2 separate regions of the Homo sapiens genome follow, and region 2 is linked to region 1. The links come from fine-mapping of genetic effects on gene expression. A gene starts in region 1. The other region holds a variant in brackets. All regions are shown on one strand. Distances are from middle to middle.

Region 1 (11,468 bases):
GGTGCACACCATCATGTCTGGCTAATTCTTGTATTTTTTTTTGTACAGATGGAGTCTCGCTGTGTTGCCTAGGCTGATATTGAACTCCTGGCCTCAAGTGATCCTTCTTCCTTGGCCTTCCAAAGTGCTGGGGTTACAGGCATGAGCAACCATGCCTAACCAAAGTTGTTCATGTGTGTGTGTGTGTGTACGTGTGTGTGTGTGTGTTTTGTTTGTTTGTTTGTTTTGAGACAGAGTCTCACTCTATCGCCCAAGCTGGAGTGCAGTGGTGCAATCTTGGCTCACTGCAACCTCCACTTCCCAGGTTCAAGCAATCCTCCTGCCTCAGCCTCCCCAGTAGCTGGGACTATGGGAGCGTGCCACCATGCCTGGTTAATTTTTGTATTTTTAGTAGAGATGGGGTTTCACCATGTTGGCCAGGCTGGTCTTGAACTCCTGACCTCAGGTGATCCGCCTGCCTCGGCCTCCCAAAGTGCTGGTATTACAGGCATGAGCCACCACACTCCACCATTGTCAGTCTTAATGTTGTTCCTTTGAAGGTAATGTGTCTCTCCCTCTCTAATTGCTTTTAATATTTTTTCTTTGTCTTTGGTTTTCAGCAGTTTTATTATGAAATGCTTAAATACAGTTTTCGGCCAACTGTGGTGGCTCATGCTTATAATCTCAGCACTTTGGGAGGCCGAGGTGGGCAGATCACTTGAGGTAGGGAGTTTGAGACAAGCCTGGCCAACATGGCAAAACCCTGTCTCTAATAAAAATACAAAAATTAGCTGGGCATGGTGGCACGTGCCTCAGCTACTCGGGAGGCTGAGGCAGGAGGATTGCTCGAACCCGGGAGGCAGAGGGTTGCAGTGAGCCGACATGACACCACTGCACTCCAGCGTGGGTGACAGAGTGAGACGCTGTCTCAAAAAAAAAAAGTGTAGTTTTCTTTGCATTTATCCTGCTTGGGATTGATAGTGCTTCTTGAGTATGTGTCTTGATATCTTTCATCAATTTTGGAAAATTTTCAACTACTCTCTTTTCAAATAGTACTTCTTTCCTGTTTCCTCTTTCTAGGACTCTAATTCCATGTATTTAGGCCTTTTTGCCATGTCCCATATGTCTCTTTCTCTCTTACCTATATATATATTTTTTATTATACTTTAAGTTTTAGGGTACATGTGCGCAACGTGCAGGTTAGTTACATATGTATACATGTGCCATGTTGGTGTGCTGCACCCATTAACTCATCATTTAACATTAGGTATATCTCCTAATGCTATCCCTCCCCCCTCCCCCCACCCCACAACAGGTCCCGGTGTGTGATGTTGCCTGCCCTTCCTGTGTCCATGTGTTCTCATTGTTCAATTCCCACCTATAAGTGAGAATATGCAGTGTTTGGTTTTTTGTCCTTGTGATAGTTTGCTGAGAATGATGGTTTCCAGCTTCATCCATGTCCCTACAAAGGACATGAACTCATCATTTTTTATGGCTGCATAGTATTCCATGGTGTATATGTGCCACATTTTCTTAATCCAGTCTATCATTGTTGGACATTTGGCTTGGTTCCAAGTCTTTGCTATTGTGAATAGTGCCACAATAAACATATATGTGCATGTGTCTTTATAGCAGCATGATTTATAATCCTTTGGGTATATACCCAGTAATGGGATTGCTGGGTCAAATGGTATTTCTAGTTCTAGATCCCTGAAGAATGGCCACACTGACTTCCACAAGGGTTGAACTAGTTTACAGTCCCACCAACAGTGTAAAAGTGTTCCTATTTCTCCACATCCTTTCCAGCACCTGTTGTTTCCTGACTTTTTAATGATTGCCATTCTAACTGGTGTGAGATGGTATCTTATTGTGGTTTTGATTTGCATTTCTCTGATGGCCAGTGATGATGAGCACTTTTTCATCTGTCTTTTGGCTGCATAAATGTCTTCTTTTGAGAAGTGTCTGTTCATATCCTTTGCCCACTTGTTGATGGGGTTGTTTGTTTTTTTCTTGTAGATTTGTTTGAGTTCATTGTAGATTCTGGATATTAGCCCTTTGTCAGATGAGCAGATTGCAAAAATTTTCTCCCATTCTGTAGGTTGCCTGTTCACTCTGATGGTAGTTTCTTTTGCTGTGCAGAAGCTCTTTAGTTTAATTAGATCCTATTTGTCAATTTTGGCTTTTGTTGCCATTGCTTTTTGTGTTTTAGACATGAAGTCCTTGCCCATGCCTATTTTCAATTCTTTTCTCTCTTCTGATACTAGATATTTTATGCTGAAACTATATTTCACATCATTAATCCTAGAATTAGCTGTGTCTAACCTGCTATCAGCTCCATCTACTATGTTAAATTCAATTATTATATTTTTCAGTTCTAGGATTTCAATTGCATTCTTTTTTAGAGTATCCAGGTTTGGTGATTTTGCACTCTACCAGAATTCCAATGCAAAATCTTACTGTTCTATACAGATCTACTCCTATCCAATTATATCAACCAATACAATCTCATTTTTGTTTAAGCCAGTTTTATTTGGTTTCCTGTTAAACACGACTGAAAAATCTTAACTGCCAATGTGGAGATATCCCCCTTCATGATGTTGTAATAATGGCTGCAGCAGCTCCAGGTGTCAAATGCAGACATGACATCCAGAGAAGAAGTGGAATGCTGCCTGTCATCCATCTCTGTTTATTAGGAGTGAAAATCTTTTCTATAATTTCTAATTCAGAAGGCCAGGGTTGTAATCACACACTACATGGAATGGGATGGGAATGATTACCAAACAGCAATCTTTACTTATCCCTGAACTTGGGGAGAGGATCATCTTTCACTAGCAAACAACTACAGTAGAAGAACATCCAAATAAAACTGGGACTCTGCCAGCAATATAAAATATGAAAGGGGAAAGCTATTGGGTAAATAATCAACAGTGTTTATGACACTAATAGATGTATTAATTTTCTGTAAAGTTGTGTGTGTGGGTAGAAAATATCAGGAATTGTACATATCAATCTTTAGCAGAATTTAAATTTGGGAGGGGGACTATCTGGAGTGGAAAGGATGGATATTTTTACTTATACAATTTTCATTAGTTTATATTACTTTGGTGATTTAAATTTAAAAGAACTTCAATCTAAAAATGGGCTGCTCAGAAGTAGAGCTAGAACAAAAATATAGAGTCAGAAGGCTGGATATGGTGGTCCACACCTGTAATCCCAATGCTTTGGGAGGTCGAGGCAGGAGGATCACTTTAGGCCAGACTTTGAGACCAGCCTGGGGAACATAGTGATACCCTGTCTCTACAAAAGAAAAAATAAAAAGAATTATGAGCATGGTGGTGTGTGCCTGTAGTCCTAGCTACCCAGGAGGTTGGAGGATTGCTTGAACCCAGGAGGTTGAGGCTGCAGTGAGCTATGATTGCACCACTGCACTCCAGCCTGGGCAACAGAGTGCTTGTCTCTAATACATACATAAATATATGTATGTGTATATATATATATATGTGTGTGTGTGTGTGTGTGTGTGTGTGTGTATGTGTGTGTGTATGTATATATGTATTAGGGAGAGAGAGAGAGAGAGAGAGAGAGAGTCAGAGAAGCACATATTTGTATATTCCATCCCAGTCCTGGCCCCTACACAGTTACTCAGGTGCCAGTAGCAGGTTTATTCCTTCTGGGGATTTGGAGGCACAAAGCTATCCGAGCCTGATGCCATCAAATATTTAAACCATTCACCTCCCTCCCGTCCCACTCTCAAAGCTGTCTTCACATCATAAATTGGCTTCCTGTGCATATTTTCCTACGGGGAAAGAATGTGCTGGACATGGCATTGTGAGCATTCTGGTCCCCTTGGCAGTTCTATTTCTCATCATAAATTAATACATTGCTTCTCTGGCTCAGATAGCAGGATAGGAGCTGGGTTAGTAGGATCTACTTTCCATTCCCCAATAGATAGGTTCTCTCTTAATGCTGTTAAAGTCAAGTTCATAAGCCTGGACCATGATGAATTTACCAAGGTAAAAGTCACCTCTGATGCCACTTGTCAGCTGGCCAGCCAGCCTGCCCTGATGACACTCCTGTCTCTTCAAGCACATTTCTTTCAGACTCCTGTGCTTCCTAGCCACATTCATCTCAATCAGCTGTCTCTTTCTTTATCCCTCATTCTGTCTTTTCCTCTATGACTCTCTCTCTCTAATTATATATATCTTTCTCTCTTCCTACTTCACCACTTAATCTTCCTTTATCTTTTTTTTTTTTATTTGACGGAATTTCTCTCTTTTTTGCTCTGGCTGGAGTGCAATGGCATAATTTCGGCTCACTGCAACCTCTGCCTCCCGAGTTCAAGCAATTCTCCTGCCTCAGCCTCCTGAGTAGCTGGGACTACAGGTGCACACCACTATGTCCAGCTATTTTGTACTTTTAGTAGAGATGGAGTTTCACCATGTTGGCCAGACTGGTCTCGAACTCCTGACCTCAGGTAATCCATTCGCCTCAGCCTCCCAAAGTGCTGTGGTTACAGGTGTAAGCCACCGTGCCCAGACTTCTTTTCCTTTTTTCTTCTGTTTTTTGTTTGTTTGTTTGTTGTTGTTGTTGTTTACCTTAATTAACCATGGAGTTGAAAAATAATATATACCAGAGCTATGTGCCAAGCACAGAGCTGGGTCACATGTAAAAATTATATTCTGACCTCACAATAACTCTGAAAACTGTTTTTGTTCCTATTTTACAAAGAAAGAAGTGGAGGCTCATAAAGGGTAAGTGGTTGTGTTTCATAATCTTAAAGGTTTTCTCTGCTGAATTTTCAAAATTAGTAAATTAAATGCTTTGTGCTTCCTTTATCTAAGAAAATACAGTTTAGGCCAGGCATGGTGGCTCATGCCTATAATCCCAGCACTTTGGGAGGCTGAGGTGGGTGGATCACTTGAGGTCAGGAGTTTGAGACCAGCCTGGCCAACATGGCGAAACCCCATCTCGACTAAAAATACAAAATTAGCCAGCTGTGGTGGTGTGCACTTGTAGTCCCAGCTACTTGGGAGGCTGAGGCAGGAGAATCGCTTGAACCTGGGAAGCAGAGGTTGCAGTGGACTGAAATCAGGCCACTGCACTCCAGCCTGGGCAACAGAGTGAGACACTGTCTCAAAAAAAAAAAAAAGATGACCCTTTGAACAATAAAGCTCTCACTGCTCTTTGCCTCTCCCCATCCTTCTTCCTGAGAGTGGGACTTGACCCTGATTCCTCTGACACAAACTTAAACTTCTTTATGGAGGAGATAACCTTCTCTGTCCAGTCAGGCTCAACATACTTTCTGTATCTGTGCAAAAGGAAGAGGTCAAATCTTCAGCACCTAGATTTGTAACTTTCAGTAACTTGGAGATGGAGGTTGTGGTAACATTAAATCTGCTCCCTGGAAGGTCACTTTTTATTATTTTGGGTGTTTAATTAAGTTGCTCGGCCTCATCAAGTGTCCTCCCCATGATCCTAGAAGATAGTGAGGTAGAAGTAGAGAGGAGTATCCCTTCCAGCCTGCTTCAGTAGAGTTCTGAGAGGAGCAAAAGAGAAAACAAGATGTTTCTGGGTGGGTTCCAGGCCCCTCCACCCTTCTGCAAGGGAGTGAAGGGTGCTTATCTCCTGAAGACATGAATTGATGGATTTTGGTTATAGGCCGGAGGAGCAGATGCAACCACTGTATTTTCTTAGGTAAAGGAAATATAAAGCATTTAATTTACTAATTTTGAAAATTAAGCAGAGAAAATCTTTAAGATTATGAAGCAAAACTACTTACTCTTTATGATCCTGCCAAGGATCAGAACATGGCAGCAGAGAAGTCCGAGGTCTAACTGAATGTCCAGACTCTGTTGGATTCAGCACCATAGACAGAAAGCAGCCCAAAGCTGCTGAGGGCTGAGGGTTGAATGCCATAGACAGATACCCCTTCTCTGTCCCCACCCCCAATTTCACTAGTCCCCATTGCTATTCCTGGGAGGAACCTAACCCCTTCCATTAGTTAACTGGCCCCCAGCACTTAAAGGTCGAGATAAACAATGGGTTGGTTTCCTTCTAAGGCCCTCCGGAATTTCTTTACTGAGCTTTCAGTTCTGCGGCTTCCTGGTAGAGTGGGGTCCGCCTTAGAGCAACTCTTATTAACATCCAGCTGATTTGCATATATCTGCATTCACTGGGGCTTCTCCATTCTGGTTTTATTGTAAATGAATTGCTCAGAGGAAGAAAGGGAAGGATTATTTCACTCCTTTTTTTTCCTCTTCTTTCCCCCTATTCCTAGGGTCTCTGTCTGGAAATTTCCCCCAGATGCGTGAAGGTGTGTGTGGTGGAAGAGGGTAGAAACCAGACTCCAACAGTCAGGTATTTGCCAGAGCATCCTATGTAGATTTCCCCAGATAATTTCCCCCATCTGTTTGGTTTCTGAAAGATCCTTGTCAGGTTCAGAGGAAGTCTGTATTTTGTTTTAGCACCGAGGGTCAGAACCTCTGGGCTGAAGTCCCTGGAGCTTCAGTAAGAAGCCATGATTGGTGCCTTAGAGCCTGCTAAGGGGATGGAACCCGGTTTTAAAGAGGAGTGAGGGGTGGTGGAGTGAGGACTCATTTTGAAATGAAAGGAGTCCTGGGTCTCTAAGCAGCTTCTAAAAATACCATCTCCCAGAGGTGGAGGCAGGGGGAGGGGAGAAATCGAGCGTGAGGAGAATGAAGATGGAAAGGAGGTGGCAGTGTGAGAACCCTTCCTCAGGTAGGTCTGGTTTTAGAAGTCCCGCCTGCATCCAAGGACTGGAGGGATGCCACACCTCCTTCTGCTTCCTCAGGGGGCTTGTCTCCTGTGGTGTCCAAGCCACAGCCTCTCCTGATGACCTTTCTTTCTGCAGGTAAAGAAGACCAATTCCTCCCACCTACTCCTCCTATTGCTACTGTCCAGCAAGTATGTCTGAGTGGGCACGTGTGCATTTACTCGCACATATACACAAGCACACACGCAGAAATGGCACATGAAAGCGGGTTGTAAATGGCCAGTGATCTACGATGCCAGGAATCCTCCTTACACTCGGCGTTCAAAGAGGTATGGACTCTGGCAGAGACAGCGTGGTTCACCAGGGCATCCGCAGCACAGAGCATGGCGCCCAGTGAGGGCTGGGTAGAGGGGTGAGGGATACATATATGCAAAAGCACAGACACTCAGACCGCAGGGGCCAAGTAGTCACAGGACTCACACTCACTCTCGAGGTTTCTCAGGCTATATTCGCTTCCAAATAGAGAGGGGGTGGGTCCCCCAAGAAAAGAGCTCGGAAAAGCCACGAGGTGGGTGGAGCTTTCTCCCCTCAAGTTCAGCCCAGATGGTGGCGCTCAGTAGCCGCCTCCCTCGTCCTGGAGGGCCCCAACCCTTCCCACCACCAAAGTGTTAAACCCTCAGCTTGCACATAAATGACCTTCACTAGACAGAGGTCTTGTTCCACGTTTTCTTGCGGCTTCTTCAGCGCCGGCTGAACTCTGCCAGGATTGCTCCGCCTCTCTCGCAGATGTCTCCGATTCCTGGCCTCTGTGCTGTTCACCAGTCCCCTGGGGTGGGCGGAGTGGGGTGATCAAAGAGGGGAACCCCCGACTCTGAGCAGACTGAGGGCATGGGTGGTTGTGAGGTGTGCTGCTTGTATCTTGACAGCAGGAGCAAGAACCTGAGGAACCGATCGTTCATGCAAAACCGCCACCGCCCCCATCCCAGCGTCCACATGGTTTCCCAGCCTCGGAAGCGCGTTGGTAGGGCAGGACCCCGTCCCTCACTTTGCTCTCCTTTCCCGAGCAGCTCCCGGGATCGTTCGGCCCCTCCTTCCTGCCGCTGTGTGTGTGTGTGTGTGTGTGTGTGTGTGTGTGTGTGTGTGTGTGTGATGAGGGCGGGAAGAGAAAGGGGGGGATGAGCTAGGAGACACCGGGAGCCTCAGACACAGGAACAGACCTAGGGCAGGGAGACAGGAGAGCTCCCCAGAGCTTGGGGTCAGGACATAAAGCTTCAAAACCCCGCAAGTCCTGGGAACAAGGGAGCTTTCAGACTAGCTCAGAGGCTGCAAGTGTTGCTGCCTCCCCGAGGGTCGCCCCTCCTTAAGCCAAGCCCACCTTGCCTGCCTACTTCTCAGGAATGAGGAGCTAAGGTTTAGCGCTCTGGGCCACCGATGCCAGCTCATTCCCCTCTCGCAGAAGCCCTGCCAGCTCCCACAGCTGCCCCACCCCCCACGGTTTGGAGATCTGCAGGACCCCTTCCTTTCCCCACCAGTTGGGTGTTCCGCCCCTGGCCTATGAAACTCCACCTTCCCACCCTCTGCTGGCGGGGATTGGTTGGCATCCCGCGGCGGTGCCTAGTGATTGGTTCCCATGGATGATGGTGAGCGGTGAGACTCCGCCCCCCGCTGGCTCTGGGGTCTGGGGGCATTGCTCAGCGGTGCTAGGCTGGCGCGGCTTGAGCCGCCGCCGGACTGACAGCTCGGTCTGCGGACCATGGAGACCTGCGCCGGTCCACACCCGCTGCGCCTCTTCCTCTGCCGGATGCAGCTCTGTCTCGCGCTGCTTTTGGGACCCTGGCGGCCTGGGACCGCCGAGGAAGGTGAGAAGACTGGTGAGCTCTGCTCGGAGCGTGGCATACCAAAAGATAGGGGGCTGGCGATGGGGGTTCTGGGGGAAGGAGTCATTGGAGAGACTAGAGTCTGTATTGGGGCTTGAAGCAAGCAGGCAGCAAAGAACTGGAGAGACAGAGAAAAATGTGATCAAGCAGTAGCGAAGAGAGGGGCGCTGAGGAGCTTGGGGGCTGGAGACCCGGGAGGTTGGGAAAGAAAGAGGCCAGGAACCGCGGGAGCCAGAGGCGGCGGTCCAGCGGCCGGTGAGACGGACAAGCTGAGTGATTGGAGGTGGGAGGTGCGGGGGCGGGGAGATGAAGAGTGGAGACAGGGAGATGCGGAGGTGAGCTCGGAATATGGGGAGACGGGATGGAGCCCGGACTACAGGGGCTAGGAGACCACAGTGTGGCCAACAGAAGGTGGAATGCTGGTCGAGGGGGCTGGATCCGGGCGCTGCCCGACGTGCTGATCATGGAACTGTCCGCAGTGCTGAATTCTGAGCGTAGTCTGCCGGGCGCGCTCCGCGTTGCCGGGTTTGAGGCTGTCGGCGATACTGGAGCCCGCGTCTTGCCTCTGATTGTGCATTTAGGGGAGCTATACGCTCAGTTGAATCCAGAGGCGTCATATCTAGGTGCAGAATCCGGAGGAGCTGGAATCTGAGGCGTTGACCGCGGGGTTGGTCTGGGCCCTGGATGGCTGATGCCTTCCAGTTCGCGATTCCGATGTGCTGTCAGTTGCGCGGATCTCGGAAAGCCGTCGGCGGTCCTGCCCACAGTCGCTGACGCCTCTGGAGAGGCCCTCACCTTGGTGGCCCACCCCCTGGTTTAAGCTCCAGAGGGTAATCTCCCAAGACTCCGGGGTGTCCTGACCTCCTGTCTCTGGTCTGCGGACTCTGCTGTCCAAACCATTTTCTGTGATCCATGCTGAGAGGTTGCAGGCTGCTGATCCGATGCCTCCTGGGGGAATAAAGGGACTTCAAGCTTCTCTGGTAGGAAGGGTCATAGATGTATACATAAAAGAACCCCAGACATTCTTTCAAAAGCAGTGGAAGTGACAGCCCCTGGGAAAAGGGCTGGCTGAGGAGAAGAGAGATTTTATTTCTCCAGTTGTTAGCAGTATCTCTCCACATTGTTTTCTCAGAGGCCCGGGAGTCAGTCTAAAAATGTTCAAGTCTTCATGCCTGGGGACCACCGACCTCAGAAAAGCCCCTGAGTAGGAGTGGATTGGGGGGTATATACAGGAATCCCCTGATACATTCACTACTCACTTTCTCTCTCTCTCTCTCTCTAATTGACTCTTAGCTATAATTTTGGGAACCTAAGAAGGCTGGGGAGAGTCACTGACTCCCACCCCCAATCTGAGAGCCAACCTTAGAGTATTTGCCATGGACCCTGTAGAAGGCTGAATGATGACCCCCACCCCCAATATGTCAATGTCCTAATCCCTAGAACCGTGAATGTTAGCTTAATTGACAAAAAGGACTTTGCATATGTGATTAGTGATCTTTTGAGATGGAGAGGTTGTTTTAGATTATCTGGATGGGCCCAATAATCACAATGGTCCTTGTATGAGGGGTGCAGGAGGAGCCAGAGTCAGAGGAGGAGGCAGTGTGATGACTGAGGCAGAGATTAAAGTGATGTGATTTGAAGATGGAGGAGGGGACCACAAGCTAGGGACTACAGGCGGCCACCAGACGCTGAAGATGGTAAGGACATGAGTTCTCCCCTCAGAGCCTCCAAAAGAAAACAGTCCTGCTGACACCTTGACTCTAGACCAGTGAAAGTGGCTTTGGGCTTCTGACCTCCAGAACTGTAACAGAAAAATATTGTGTTGTTTTAAGCCACTAAATTTGTGGTAATATGTTACAGCAGCCCCAGGAACTGAATACAAGCTCCTTCCCTACTGACTGTGGCTACCTCTCTCTGGATTTGAGCTATTCACACCCCTCCTGGGGATGTATGGAGTGGGAAAAACTTGCCCATATCATTTGTCACATATTGCATTCTCTCAGCAAATTTACAGGGACTTCACCAAAGGATTCCACTCTCTTGCTAAACTGACCTTCTCGATTTCTGATATTTCTGTCTTCCCCTCTCCTTAGTTATCCTCCTGGATTCCAAAGCCTCCCAGGCCGAGCTGGGCTGGACTGCACTGCCAAGTAATGGGGTAAGTGCACAAGTGTCCCTCCCTGTCCCAGGGATCCTCTGGTGGTCCAGGACACAGTCTCCTCAGCTCCTCATGTTTACATCAGACAAAAGTGCTCCTCAGAGTGTGTGGTCTCCAGCAGCCCTGGCTTCAAGCCAGAGTGGCCTGTTAGAAAACATTGAGTCTTCAGCCAGTTAGACAGTCAAAAAAAAAAAAAAAAGTGAATAAGTGAGGAGAGAACTGGCTGTCTAGGAACAGAAATGTGGCATCTGGATGGAGCTAATACAGGACAGTGGCTTGCACATAGTAGTAGATCCTCCAAGCAATGTTGTTGATTGATTGACACAGCAAGCAAGACTGGGAGTCCTAAAAGAGGCTTGGAGACTTGGGGTAGGGGAGGATGATGTGGGCTGTAACAGCAGCTTGGTGGAGTGCAAAGGGCACTGGTCAGAGAGTCAGGAAACTACAGGCACCATTCCTAGCTCCACCACTAACTTGATGTGCATACCTGGTCAGATCGCTCTCCCTCTGGAGCCTCAGTTTCCCCATCTATAAAAATAAGGATTGGGATCATTTGTTTCCAAAGTTTCTCCCAGCGCTGCATCTTACAATTTCCGGGGTGTGCATGGTGCATGAGAGAGAAAGCAGGAGTCACTGCTAGCGCTCCACCTCCTGGAAGCACTTTGGCTCTGGGCTGCCCACCCCTTTACTCTTGTCCCCAGTGGGAGGAGATCAGCGGCGT
Region 2 (8,000 bases), 36 kb after region 1:
GCGGGAGCCCATCCCTGCCGGAGCCCCTGGGGCCAATGACACGGAGTACGAGATCCGATACTACGAGAAGGTGAGTGCGTGTCTGGGAGGGACCTGGAGCCTGCCCCGCACCTGTCCCGCAGGGCTTCTGGTTCTTCAGGCCATCCTCCCAGCAAAAGCCCTCGTTACTCCCTTTGTAAACATAACCACCCGTCTCCTAGGGGCCCCAGGCTCGAGTCTCCCCCTCCTCCCCCGGACTCCTGCTCTTCCTCCCTCCGCTCAGGTCTATCTCCAACACCAACCATCTCCATTGTCCCCATGTCACCTAGTGTTTCGGTTGACAAAGAGCTTTCTCTGGGGCCCGGTCCAGATTTTGTGTGGCTGAATCTTATACGTATCATTTGTAGAGCCCTTTTAAAGAAAAAGGACACAGAAAGATCATATCATTTCTAATTTTACAAAAGTGCCTGACCATGGAGCACATTGCTGGGTGTGGTGGTGTGCTGGTAGATATTTAACAGCCAGCTTTCCAGAACAATAAATGTATGAGTTATTATAATTCCAGTCATATAAAAAAGTGTAGCACAGCATTTACAGTGATAATAAAATATGTTCAGAACTCTTGATTGTGAACTCCATATGGCCAATTGATCCCCATAGGATACTTGTGCTGATTTTTGCTGACCTCTTGTATCCATTGTCAATCTGTGGTTGCAGCTTAGCTGTGATGTAACAAATGGAGTCACATCCCAATCTGCTCTTTTCCCCGTAAGTTTATTACCTTTATTATTTATTTATTTATTTATTTATTTTGAGACAGAGTTTCATTCTTGTCACCCAGGCTGGAGTGCAGTGACATGATCTCGGCTCACTGCAACCTCCGTCTCCCAGGTTCAAGTGATTCTCCTGCTTCAGCCTCCCAAGTAGCTGGGATTACAGGCATGCACAACTACACACAGCTCATTTTTGTATTTTTAGTAGAGACGAGGTTTCATCGTGTTGGCCAGGCTGGTCTATATCTCCTGACCTCAGGTGATCCACCCGCCTTAGCCTCCCAAAGTGCTGGGATTACTGGTGTGAGCCACTGCACCTGGCCAATTTATTATCTTTAAATCTGATATGCAAACTACTGTTAAACTGTTTCTCACCTTGGTGCAAATTATATTCACTGAAGTGAAACCTCTTTCAGCTTCTACATGTGTCAGAACTTCACTCACTCCTCAATGACATGAGGGACTCCTTTGCTGAAAATAGTTTTTGAATACTGGAAGTCTGTTGAGACCTGTGAGTGTTGGGGATGAGTGGGAAGGAGGAGAGAGTCCTGAGTCACTGCTGGGTGTCTGACCTGGGTAACCCAGAGTCTGAGGTACCACTGACTGAGATGGAGAAGCACTGAGGTGGAAGGGCAGGCTTGGAGCAAGGTGATGAACCTGGTTTTGCTCATCTAGCATTCAGGGGGCCTCTGGGACACCCAGGTAGACTTGCAGGTCTGAAGCTTAAGGGAGAGGCCTGGCTTGGAAAGGGAGAGAAAGAGAGAGAGAGAGAGTGAGAGTGTTGGGGGCTCTCAGCATAGAGACAGTAGCTGCTGCCAGGGGAGAAATTGGGGGAGAGGAATGAGAAGGGGAATGTGTCTGAGAAGAGTGGCCAGGACAGAGCCCTGAGGAATGCTGATGTTTAGGGAGAGCAGCAAAGGACACTGGGAAGCAGGTGCTTAGAAAGGACTCACTGAATGGACTTTGAGGATCAGGGTATAGACAAGAGCCCCAAGGTTGAGCTGGGTGGATGCTCCCAGGTTGTTGGGCATGAAAACCCTCAAAAAGAGGAGCAAGGGCCAGGCTCAGTGGCTACCACCTGTGATTCCAGCACTTTGGGAAGCTGAGACGGGAGGACGGCTTGAGGCCAGGAGTTCAAGACCAGCCTGGGCAACAAAGTGAGACCGCCACCTCTACAAAAAAGAAATTAGCCAGGCATGGTGGTGTGCGCCTGTGGTCCCAGCAACTTGGGATGCTGAAGCAGGAAGATCGCTTGAGCCCGGGAAGTCGAGGCTGCAGTGAGCAGTGGTTGCACCACTGCACTCCAGCCTGGGCAACAGAGCGAGACCCTGTCTCAAAAAAACCCACCAAAACCCCCAAAAACAACAAAAAAGAAGGAACAAGTCCGGGCGTGGTGGTGCACGCCTGTAATCCCAGCACTTCGAGAGGCCAAGGCAGGTGGATCACCTGAGGTCAGGAGTTCGAGACCAGCCTGGCTAACATGGCGAAACCCAGTCTCTATTAAAAAAACAAAAATTAGCCAGACATGGTGGTGGGTGCCTGTAATCCCAGCTACTCAGGAGGCTGAGGCAGGGAGAATTGCTTGAACCCAGGAGGTGGAGGTTGCAGTGAGCCGAGATTGCACCACACTGCATTCCAGCCTAGGTGACACAGCAAGACTCTGCCTCAAAAAAAAAAAAAAAAAAAAAAAAAAAAAAAAAAAAAAAAAAAAGAACAAGTATAAAAGGGCTATATTTGAAAGGCTTCAGTGTACTCTCATGGAGCCTGCTGAGTAGAAGCCTTGCTGGGCCACTGGACCTGGGCGGGTGTCTGGCAGCTCCCCTCTGGAGCCACAGTGCTGCTCATCTCAACCTCTCTCTGCACACCAGTCCAGCCCATGATGCAGAGGGGCTTGCTTACGGCACGTTGCCAATGCCCAGGTAGGCAGCCTTGCTCCTTCCTCCTCTCTGCCCCTAGCCTGCCCTACCTTGTGGGTCCTGAAGCCACTGCTTCTCTGTCTTTCAATGGATTGTTGAGATGCCTGGAAGAGAGATTCTGATTGGCCCAGCTTGGGTCAAAGTCCGTCCCAGTTCCTGAATGCTATGGTCAGAAAGCTGGAGCCACCGAATATCAGTGGGGAGAATAACTTTCTGGGGCTGTGGATATGGCAGGGCCTCTAATAAGGTGTGGGCAGGGACGAAACGACGGGAGGAGCATCTCTAGTATGCCATTGTCAGGTGTGTTGGGGTGGAGCGGGGGGCAGCATGATGTCGAGCAAAAAACACGGGCTCTGCAGGGATTCAGAGGGTGCACCAGCCCCTTCCTTGATGTGAACCTCACCTAAAAAGGAGATGGAAATGCTGACTCCACAGGGCTGTTGTGAGGCTCACAGGAGGCAAAGGGTCTCATGCAGAAGCTGGCACTGAGTAGGCGCTCATCAGTGATGGCTCCAGCTGGGGCCTTGGGGGAGTCTTTACCCCTCTGAACTGGGTTTCCTTATCTGTGAAACAAACAAACAAGATAATACTTTCTGTCCTCTGAGCCTTGCAGGACAGTTGTGAAAAATCAGACATCGAGGAAAGGAAAAGCCTTGTGGGCCATTGGGGGCTTTCATGTGTCAGGGCTCATTCTCTCATTCTGTCCTTTGAGGCTTCAGGCCTGCCTAGGGCACTGGCTCAGCTTAGCCTGGATGGACAGGCCCTGGTGGCCCTCATCCTATCATCCCCCGGAAGGAGGATCTGGTGTCTTCTCTAAAATTTCTCTTATGCAGAGGTGGTGCTATTCTCAGCTACAAGTGCCACCGAGTGTGGGTGGGTGCTTGTGGTGAAGACAGGGGCTAAGGATCCAAGGAAAAGATCCCTGGGAA[A/C]CCCCAAGATGATTGAGGTTGGGTTTTCGCACTCAGCCCACATTCACGTAAGGGCGCTTCTCCTGCCTCCCTGTTCCTGTTCACCCTTTGTTCTCCTAGAACAGTGGATCTGGCGCTGGTGGGCTTCACTTCTTGATCTCTCTCCAGGGTCAGAGTGAGCAGACTTACTCCATGGTGAAGACAGGGGCGCCCACAGTCACCGTCACCAACCTGAAGCCGGCTACCCGCTACGTCTTTCAGATCCGGGCCGCTTCCCCGGGGCCATCCTGGGAGGCCCAGAGTTTTAACCCCAGCATTGAAGTACAGACCCTGGGGGAGGGTAAGTAGTGTGTGTGAGTGGACAGGGACCTAGACAGAGAGAACCCTGCACGGGGCTGAGGTAGGGAGACAAATAGAGGGGGAGAGTTATCTGGAGTTATCTGTGCAATGAAGGGAGCCTGCAGAACAGTTTAATTAATTACAGCCTAATTAATTAATGACTTTGAAATCCACTGACTAATGCCTGTTCACCGACGTGAATTAGATTGGGAAACTGTCCTGGAGGAGCTCACAGGAGAGGGATTTGTGAACAGCTATAACCCATGTCTCAGCTGGATAGAGACTCAGTTTGGATAGAGACCCAAACATGGGACACTGTCCCTTTCCCCACTAGGCCTTAGAGCGTGATGCTGACTTCACTGAAGGTTGATGGACATGAAGGGGTTGCATTGCAGTGATAAACACAAAAATAAGGATTGCGGCCAGGCGCGATGGCTCACACCTGTAATCCCAGCACTTTGGGAGGCTGAGGCAGGTGGATCACCTGAGGTCAGGAGTTCGAGACCAGCCTGGCCAACATGGTGAAACTCCTTCTCTACTAAAAATACAAAAATCAGCCGGGCGTGGTGGCGGGCACCTGTAATCCCAGCTACTCGGGAGGCTGAGGCACAAGAATCACTTAAAACCGGGAGGCAGAGGTTGCAGTGAGCCAAGATTATGCCACTACGTTCCAGCCTAGGTCACAGAGTGAGACTCTGTCTCAAAAAAAAAAGAAGGATTGTGTAACTTAAGTGGGTAAATCACATGGTATGCGAACGATATCTCAATAAAGCTGTTACCAAAACCAAACAAAAACTGGAAATTGAATATCCTCATCTGAAAACATCTCCGGCTTCTCCGCAATATTGTGCTTTCCTCCCTCCTCCTTTACTTCCCTCCCCTGGTTCCTCTTCTCCCCACCCACTGCCCAATTCCCTGATGTGTGCACAGCAGTTTAGCTGTCTTGTTGCTTTGCCTGCTGCTAACCTGGTCCTCAGGATCTCACCTCTATCTGCCCTGAGCAGCTCATGAAAATATTTTCCTGAACAAAGGCAGTTCCCCCTAAGAGGCATTCTGGCACCAGCTGTCAAGATAATAATTCTTTCCAACCTGCTACATGACTCTAATCCAAGATAGGAAGAGCTCTGAGTCCAAAGGGAAGTGAAGATAAAATGCTGAAGGGGTCTGAGTTCTGGGAAGGAAGACCACACTTCTCGCCTGAATGCAAAAAGTGTCAGACCTCGGCCAGGTGCTGGAAAGAGAAGATTATAGCTGGGGATCATTTGAATGTGTACAGATGGGCAGGGAGGCATTCTGGGGAGAGGAAGCTATCTGAACAAAGGCGGGCAGGTTTGGCTGGAGTGGGCGTAGTGGGGGCAGGAGCTGGGGACCGTCAGTGGAGAAGGGCTGATGGTCTCCATTCATTGGGTACCTCTCAGATAGTAGAGACTGCTGAGATCCCCAGTCTCCCTTCTTGTGGCCCTGGCTATGGTTCTCCCAATCTGCAGAGTGTGGTTTCCCATGAGCTGTGTCTCCAAATTGAGATTTTTTTTTTTTTTTGAGGTAGGGTCTTACTGTGTCACCCAGGCTGGAGTGTAGTGGCACAATCACAGCTCCCTGCAGCCTCAACTTTCCAGGCTTAAGTGGTCCTCCCACCTCAGCTTCCCAAGTAGCTGAGACCACAGGCGCTTGCCACCATGACCAGCTAATATTTTTACTTTTTGGGGGTCTCACTATGTTGCTCAGGCTGGTTTCGAACTCCTGGGCTCAGGTGATCCCTCCACTCGGCCTGCCAAAGTGCTGGGATCACAGGTTTGAGCCACTGCCCCCCGCCTTCCAAAGCAGGATCTTTTTCTTTTTTCTTTTTTTAAAAAGAGCGATGGAATCTTGCTATGTTGCTCAGGCTGGTCTCGAACTCCTGGGCTCAAAGCAATTCTCCTGTCTTGGCCTCCCAAAGTGTTAGGATTACAGGTGTGAGCCACCATGCCCAGCCCCAAATCAAGGTCTTGGTGAACGCTTATGCGTCACCACTGTGCTAGTTACCTATTGCTATGTAATGAGTTGCCCCAACATCTAGCAGGTGAAAACAACAAATATTTATAATCTTATGTTTCCATGGATTGGTAATATAGGTGCCTCTCAGCTAGGTGCCAGTGACTTAGGGTCTCTTCCAAGGCTGCCGTCAAGTTGTCCTCAGGGGCTGTGATCATCTCGGGGCTTAGCTGGGGGAGAGTTCACCTCCCTGCTCAGGGTCTTGCTGGCTGCTGCTGAGGCATGCTGTTCCTTGTCCCATGGGCCTCTCCTTAGAGCTGCTCACCACAACCACTGGATTCTTCCAGAGACTGTGAGCCAGGGAGAGGGCACCCAAGACAGAAGCCATTCATCTTGTTTCCTGATCTTGGGAATGACATCCCAATACTCTTGCCATATTCTGTTCATTAGAAATGAGTCCAGCCTGTGCTCATGGGGAATGGATACCAGGAGGTAGGGATGCCATCTCAGAGACTGCCCACTGCTGGCATCTTTCTCCGTTTCTGTGTCCACATGGTTGCCTCATTTCAAACAGTTCTTGGCAACTCTATTCCCCTCTATCCCCACCCAGACCCTCAGCCCTCTTTGCCTCTGGAACCCTGGGCTCTGAAATGCCCTCTCTGACTCTAGCATTTTTGGCTTCTAACTCTCGTCTTCTGTTCCTCCTCACTTGCTCTGTGACATCCGAAAGACTGCTCACTGGATCCTACCTCATCTCCCAGACTTTTAGCTCCTCCTGGCCCCACACCCATCTCTATCCAGCCCCTGCAGATGATCTCATCAGAAATACTCCCCAACTCTGCCAACCCTCATTCCCTGGGCACCTTGCTGCACCCACCTGCTAGTCCCCAGACTTGGACCTTTCTCCTCCCTGTGTCCCACGCGGAAGCTGCCTAAAGAGGTGTACTTTCCAATCTCAGTTCAGTCTTCAGGGCCACTTAGTACTTTTCCCATTCCTAATAGTTATGCCAAACCTTCACCTCTCTCAAGCACCTCTTCTCCATCCTCACTCCCACCTCAGCAGACACCCTCATTCCTTTTCTTCTTAGGCAGGAACTCTCTCCACTGCTCCCTGTCACCCACAGGAGAAAGTTTATACTCCTTAGCTTAGCGTTCAAGGCCCTCCAGGTTCTGGCTCCCCCAGTTCCCTCCATCTTCCCACCCTCCAGCTTCCTATTTGCCACTCTCCGCCTTCATGCAGTCTGTTTCCCAGACACAGGGGACGACTTGCCATTTTCAGACCCAGTGTGTGCATCAAAGCACCATCAAAAATCCTTCCAGTCTCCAGGTCCAGTTCAGATGGCACCTTTTTTTGTGAAGCCTTCCTCATTGGCTTTAGGAAGAAATTATTGTGCCTCTGCTCAGCTCTGCTCATTTCTGTTTCTTTTTTCATTCTACAGTTAAGATTTTTGTTTCTGTCTCACCCGTAGGCCCATTCACCCCTCTCTCCTCAGTACTAATGCAAACCAGGCACATAGGTTGGATGGATGGATGGGTTGATTGGATAGATCGATGAATAGGGCTGAGAGCGAGGGTCCTCTAGGCTGATCTCTTGGAGAAATAGTTCAAAGCAGAAGCTTTGGAATCAGGCAGAGACTTTTGGAGTGATGCTCAAATCTTAGGTTCACCACTTTTTAGCCATGTGATCTTGGGCAAATTATGTAATTTCTCAACCTCAGTTTCCTCAGCTGTAAGATGAAGATGGTAATACCTTCCTGGATTATTGTGAAGATGAAACAAGACAGTATAGTGTAGGCACATGGCCCAGTGTCTTGAATGGAGTAAGGTGCAGTTACCGTTAGCCCTTTTTATTATTGTTGGTGGATGGTCTGGACTGGGGGTAGGGAGCTCAGAGCAGAGGCCATTCCTCCTGCAGAGCAACTTTGAGTCCCTCACTGCTCATCTGAAAGGCATAGAGGGAGGCCTGGCCCTGCCTGTCTGGACTCCTGCCTCTCTGAGCAGGAGCTGGGCTGCTGTGGAGGTGTTCTGCCCTGAGAGCAGAGGAAGCTCTTGGGACTCCAGGTGCCACTGTGGTCAGTGGGACTGCCTTGGCGCCTCTGTGGCTGGGAGGCAGT

Which allele goes with the higher level. Positions count from the first base shown, and alleles are read on the strand shown. Sizes are in standard deviations (SD) of each study's normalised expression.
With allele A in place of C in region 2, the expression in cerebral cortex of the gene that starts at base 8,412 in region 1 is lower (small effect, 0.30 SD a copy in GTEx).

What was found. PIP is the estimated chance that this variant, and not a neighbour inherited with it, causes the effect.
Region 2: its variant is fine-mapped to the expression of EPHA10 in cerebral cortex (GTEx, PIP 0.99). The same link has a PIP of 0.9 or more in prefrontal cortex.

Annotation. Positions count from the first base shown.
Region 1 is chr1:37,762,064-37,773,531 of GRCh38, reverse strand. EPHA10 (EPH receptor A10) reads left to right here and starts at 8,412. Exons shown (of 17, transcript NM_001099439.2): 1 at 8,412-8,571; 2 at 10,683-10,747; 3 at 11,449-11,468. The coding sequence starts at 8,466. It overlaps LOC105378650 (a long non-coding RNA gene), which reads left to right and starts at 6,216. Exons shown (of 3, transcript XR_947192.2): 1 at 6,216-6,336; 2 at 6,851-7,041; 3 at 7,639-7,803.
Region 2 is chr1:37,727,327-37,735,326 of GRCh38, reverse strand. EPHA10 (EPH receptor A10) reads left to right here. Exons shown (of 17, transcript NM_001099439.2): 6 at 1-70; 7 at 3,745-3,916. Among named protein-coding and RNA genes, the nearest start is that of EPHA10, 34 kb to the left of the region's middle. RefSeq lists an enhancer at 7,718-8,000. The variant A/C (reference allele first, on the strand shown) is at 3,598.